Regions from separate parts of the Homo sapiens genome. Here region 1 is linked to region 2. A link means that fine-mapping ties the variant in region 2 to the expression of a gene that starts in the linked region. Tissue or cell type: esophagus mucosa. Region 2 holds a variant in brackets; the other region holds the start of a gene. All regions are shown on one strand. Distances are between the middles of the regions.

Region 1 (2,911 bases), 21 kb before region 2:
CATCCTGGCTAACATGGTGAAACCCCGTCTCTACTAAAAATACAAAAAAATTAGCCAGGCGTGGTGGCGGGCGCCTGTAGTCCCAGCTACTCGGGAGGCTGAGGCAGAAGAAAGGCATGAACCCGGGAGGCGGAGCTTGTAGTGAGCCGAGATCCCGCCACTGCACTCCAGCCAAGACCGAGCGAGACTCCGTCTCAAAATAAATAAATAAATAATAAAAAGAAAAAAAGAAAATAGTAAACTTTTCCTCGCGTTTACATAAGTTAATACTTCGAGTGATAATGGGAAAATAACTTTTTTAAAAGGCAGTGCAATTGAGAAATGGAAAAGCATTTTCCCAACAGGTTTTGAGAAGCAGTTGACACAAAAGTCACTTTGAGAGCTCTGCGAAGAGCGACAGTCATTGTGTAACCTTAACTTGCAAAGTCATACTCAAAGCCAAAAATCAAGGTCCAGCTTATCAGCCACGGAGCCTGAGGCCATAAAGATGCTGGGCAGGAGCTCCACGCTGGGATAAGTGGGGTGGTTATTTCAAAATCGTCCCAAGTGACAAGCTCTAGGACGTGCTGTGCTTTAAAAAAAAAAAAAAAAAAAAGTCGCGGTGAAATTAACAGGGGCGAAAACTCTGCCCAGCGATCGCAGCATGAAGCTCTGCGCTCCCGAGACCATCGAGTGGCCAGGGCTGGGCGCTCCTTCAACAGCAGCGAAGGCAGCGGCGCCGGGGCAGCAGCCACCTCCCCCGCGGGCCGGCACCGCATTCCTGCCCGGTTCTATACTTAACCTCCGGCCAGCGCCCCGCCGTGCACCGTATTAGGCAATGCCAGGCGCGCAGGGCCCGGCCCCCCCGCCCGCTCCATTCAACCCCGGCGGTGGCCGCGGCGACAGCTCCCTTCCCCCACGGCCGCTGCCCGCACCCCCCGCGCCCCTTACACCCCGGCCCGCGCCCCCTGAACCCGGAACCTCCGCGGACCGCGGCGCGGGGAGGGCCCGAGGGTGCCCCGCGGCGCGCGTACCCCGCGGTCATGGCGATGTCGTAGAAGGTGAGCCAGGCGGTGGCCAAGACCCCCAGGCGCCTCCGCTCGCCGGGAGCCTCCCGGTCCTCGCCGGCCTCCGAGGCGCCGCCGTTGGTGCCGTCCTCGTCGCTGGACGCCATGGTGGCCGCGCACCTGGGGGACGTGGGAGACAGCGGCAGGAGCGTGGGAGGGGACCCTGCCCAGCCTGCAGCCCGAGAGCCGCTGCCCGCTGCCGCCGCTTCCGTCAGGCGCCCCATGTGCAGCGCGCAGGGGGCTCGGCGCAGCCAGCTCTACCGACCGCGAGGGGGAGGAGCGGACGCCCCCGGCCACCGCCCGTCACGCCCCCGCCCCGCCCCGCCCCTTGGGAGCGCGCGCCACTCGGGGGCCAGAACGCCTGGCCCTGGCACTGGGGATCCAGGACCCGCGAGCCCCGGCACGCTTTCCAGGCGGCGCTGTAGTTTCCGCTCCCGAGGAAAGTGCACCCGCCTCGCTAGCTGCGGGCGCCTCTTCATAGAGAGACGCCCAGACGCCTTGCGCCCTGGCGATGCGCACCCTGCGAGTGCATTTAGTGGGGACACAGGGAACGCACCTGAACTTGGCGTGGCTCTGCCCTGCCTGGCCTTTTGTAAGGCAGTTTCTCAATACGCAGGCAGGGAGCGGGATCTTCCCGCCACTCATTCTTTTCTTTTTAGAGATGCGGTCTCAGTCTGTCTCCTAGGCTGGAGGGCAGTGACGTGAACATAGCTCACTGCAATTTCGTGAGCTCAAGCAATCTTCCCACCTCTGCCTTCCAAAGTTCTGTGATTACAAGCCTGAGCCACAGCGCTGGGCCAAACATTCATTCATTCTTAAGAGCTTCTGGGGAAGAAACGCCTATTTCGCCCTGTTTCCCGTTTACTAGCGAGTCCAACAGGTCTTCCAACAGTGAGAAGACCGTCCCACTTGAGTGATTTTTTTTTCCTTTTTCATTTCTTATTTTTTTTTTTTTTTACAGTCTGGAGTGCAGTGTTGTGATCTCGGCTCACTGCAACCTCCGCCTCCCTGATTCAAGAGATTCTCCTGCCTCAGCCTCCCGAGTAGCTGGAACTACAGTCATGCACCACCACGCCCGGCTAATTTTTGTTATTTTTAGTAGAGACGGTTTCACCACGTTTGCCAGGCTGGTCCCGAACTCCTGGCCTCAAGTGATCCACCCGCCTTGGCTTCCCAAAGTGCTGGGATTACAGGCGTGAGCCACCGCACCCGGCCTCACTTGTGTGAATTTTACCGGAGCGTGTGTGTGTGTGTGTGTGTGTGTCTGTGTGTCTGTGTGTCTGTGTGTGTGTCTATTTACCAAGTGTCAGGCCTCTGAGCCCAAGCTAAGCCATTATATCCCCTGTGACCTGCACGTATACATCCAGATGGCCTAAAGTAACTGAAGAATCACTAAAGAAGTGTGGCCGGTTCCTGCCTTAACTGATGACATTACCTTTTGAAATTCCTTGCACCTACTGAAATACAACCCCCAAATTCCTGAATCCTCCCATTTTATTAGCTGTGTGAACTTGGACAACGTAACCTATCCATGCCTCAGTTTCCTTAGTGGAAATAATTTTTAAAAATCGTGAGCAGAGATCGCCCGTTGCACTCCAGCCTGGACGACAGAGTGAGACTCTGTCTCAAAAAAATAAAAAAAAAAGGAAAGGAAGGCTGGGTGTGGTGGCTCACCCCTGTAATCCTAGCACTTTGGGAGGCCGAGGTAGGCAGATCACTTGAGGTCAGGAGTTTGAGGCCAGCCTGACTAACATGGTGAAACCCCGTCTCTACTAAAAATACAAAAATTAGCGGGGCATGGTGGCGGGCGCCTGTAATCCCAGCTACTCAGGAGTTGAGGCAGGAGAATCGCTTGAACCCAGGAG
Region 2 (2,911 bases):
CCCGTAAACTCTGCCTTCCAGGGTTCAAGCAATTCTCCTGCCTCAGTCTCCTGAGTAGCTGGGATTACAGGCATGCGCCACTATGCCAGGCTAATTTTGTATTTTTAGTAGAGACGAGGTTTCTCCATGTTGGTCAGGCTGGTATTGAACTCCCAACCTCAGGTGATCCGCTCGCCTCGGCCTCCCAAAGTGCTGGGATTACAGGCGTGAGCCACCGCACCCGGCCCTCCCCACCCCTCTTTATTACTTTCTATGGAACTCCAATTACCCATATGCTATACTGCTTTATATTTTTCTATAGGTCATTGAGATTTTTTATTTTTCAGTCTTTCTCTTCTATGTGCTTCAATTTTGTATAGTTTCCGTTGCTGTGTCTTCAGGTTCACTTATTTTTTCTACTGTAGTGTCTAAACTCCCATTAATTCTTTTTTTAAAATGATTTTTATTTTTATTTTTTTTGAGATGGAGTCTTGCTCTGTCGCCCAGGCTGGAGTGCAGTGGCACGATCTCGGCTCACTGCAAGCTCCGTCTCCCAGGTTCACGCCATTCTCGTGCCTCAGCCTCCTGAGTAGCTGGGACTACAGGTGCCCGCCACCGCACCCGGCTAATTATTTTTATTTTTATTTTTAGTAGAGATGGGGTTTCACCATGTTAGCCAGGATGGTCTCGATCTCCTGACCTCGTGATCCACCCGCCTCGGCCTCCCAAAGTGTTGGGATTACAGACGTGAGCCACCGCGCCCGGCTAAACTCCCCTTAATTCTATCTAGTGGAAGTTTTATGTCAGATAGTGTAATTTTAATCTCTAGAATTGCCATTTGCTTCTTTTTTGATGCGTTTTATTTCTCTCCCCATTATATTCATCTTTTTGTAAGCCCTTGAGCATGTTGATCACAGTTAGAACTCTTTAAACATTCTTATGTTAATTCAATCATCTCTTTAATTTCCGGGTCTGTTTCCATGGACTGATTGCCCTACTGGTTATTAGCCACGTTTTCCTACTCCTTTATGTGTTCAGTAATATTTTATTGGAGTCTGGCCATTGAAGAATTTTATATTTTTGAGTGCCGTAAATATATGTATTCCTGTTAAGAGTTTCATACTTTGTTCTGCCCCTGATTTATGTTGCCCAGCTTACTTTTCAAGAGTTTACTCTTTAAGCTTTTTTAGAGCAAAGGCAGAGGTAGACTTCCATGTCAGGCCATTCCCCACTACTAAGACATTAGCCTCTTGGGGTATTTACTTAACACTCAGTGTATTCAAGTAATTTTCTTCCTTTTGGCTTTGAGAACTGAAATGATTCCCTGACTTGTATGAACTCTTGGGATTTTTCAGATTTTGCTTCCCTGGTAGTAGGTCTTTGCCTAAAAGTGCTTTGCCCAAACTTGTAGAGCTTTACCGTACCC[A/G]TGACTAGATTAGCATTCAAAGCCGCAAGGGGAACACTTGTGCAGACTTCTTTCTTTTTTTTGAAATGGAGTTTCGCTCTTGTTGCTTAGGCTGGAGTGCAATGGCGTGATCTTGGCTCACTAAACCTCTGCCTCCCGGGTTCAAGCAATTCTCCTGCCTCAGCCTCCCAAGTAGCTGGGATGACAGGCACCTGCGACCACGCCCAGCTAATTTATTTCATTTTTAGTAGAGACGGGGTTTCACTATGTTGGCCAGGCTGGTCTCCAACTCCTGACCTCAGGCAATCCACCCGCCTCAGCCTCCCAAAGTGCTGGGATTACAGGCGTGAGCCACCACACCCGGCCCCTTGTGCAGATTTCTGAAGCTCTTCCCTGCATAGCACCCTCCTAATATATTGCCCTCCAAATTCTAGTCTCTTGGCCTCCTCAAACTTTGATTTTTGTCTCTTCAATGCAATAACACCTTTGGGTTCTTTTGGGGCTCCACCTCCCTGTGCCACAGCCTAGAAACTGATTCCAGGCAGAACGCTATTGTAATCATTGGGCTCACTGCATATGCTTCCTTTCTTCTTGAAATCATAGTCCAGTGCTGCCTGTTTTCCCATGTTTGAAATCATTCCATATATTTTGTCCAGTGTCTTATTTGCTTATTGTAAAAAGGTAAGTCTGGATCCTGTTACTCTCTCATGGCCAGTAATGGAGGTTTGCCATTTTAATCATAATAAATTTTATTTATTTACTGCATTTAACAAACATTTATGGAATATCTACCGTGAAGAGCCCAGAAACAGGGAAAAATGATTCAGACTAATGCTTATACAATTAAAAAGTTACAATATTGTGGTAGCTTTTAAGTATGACCCCAAAATTCTTTGACACTCTTTCCACCAAGAGGTAAATTTTATTTCCTCTTCCCTTAAGTGTAGATGCTGTGACTGCCTGTCCAAAAGAACATGACTGAAATGATGCTGTGCTTATTTCCTAGCCCAGGTCTTAAGAAACTGGCAGTTTCCCGGCTCTTGCAATACTCAGTTGTATGCCCATCCAACACACTGAGAGGAACCAAGCAGATACATAGGAGCTCCCATGTAGTTGTTCTGGTTGGTAACCCCAATGACTCAGTCAACTGCTAGGACCAACTGCCAGACATATAACTGAGCAAACTTTGAAATGACTGTAGCCCTGGCTGTAGTGATTCCAGCCTCTGAGCTACCACCGCTGAGACTGTGTGGTCCTGGCTAAGTTCTAACCAAATTTCTGTTTGTAAGCAGAAGAAATGATTGTTGTTGCCCTAAGATGCTAAATTTGCAATTTGCAGTGCTTAATTTTTTTTTTTTTTTTTTTTGAGATGGAGTTTCGCTCTTGTTGCCCAGGCTGGAGGGCAATGGTGTGATCTCGGCTCACTGCAACCTCCACCTCCCGTGTTCAAGCGATTCTCCTGCCTCAGCCTCCTGAGTAGCTGAGATTACAGGTATGCGCCACCATGCCCAGCTAATTTTGTATTTT

Alleles and levels. Positions count from the first base shown, and alleles are read on the strand shown. Sizes are in standard deviations (SD) of each study's normalised expression.
In carriers of allele G in region 2, the expression in esophagus mucosa of the gene that starts at base 1,305 in region 1 tends to be lower than with A alone (small effect, 0.38 SD a copy in GTEx).

What was found. PIP is the estimated chance that this variant, and not a neighbour inherited with it, causes the effect.
Region 1: HACD1 starts here. The variant in region 2 is fine-mapped to the expression of HACD1 in esophagus mucosa (GTEx, PIP above 0.99).

The regions. Positions count from the first base shown.
Region 1 is chr10:17,616,070-17,618,980 of GRCh38, forward strand. HACD1 (3-hydroxyacyl-CoA dehydratase 1) reads right to left here and starts at 1,305. Exons shown (of 7, transcript NM_014241.4): 1 at 1,014-1,305. The coding sequence starts at 1,270. RefSeq lists a silencer at 846-1,505.
Region 2 is chr10:17,636,673-17,639,583 of GRCh38, forward strand. No RefSeq gene overlaps it. Among named protein-coding and RNA genes, the nearest start is that of STAM-DT, 5.8 kb to the right of the region's middle. The variant A/G (reference allele first, on the strand shown) is at 1,406.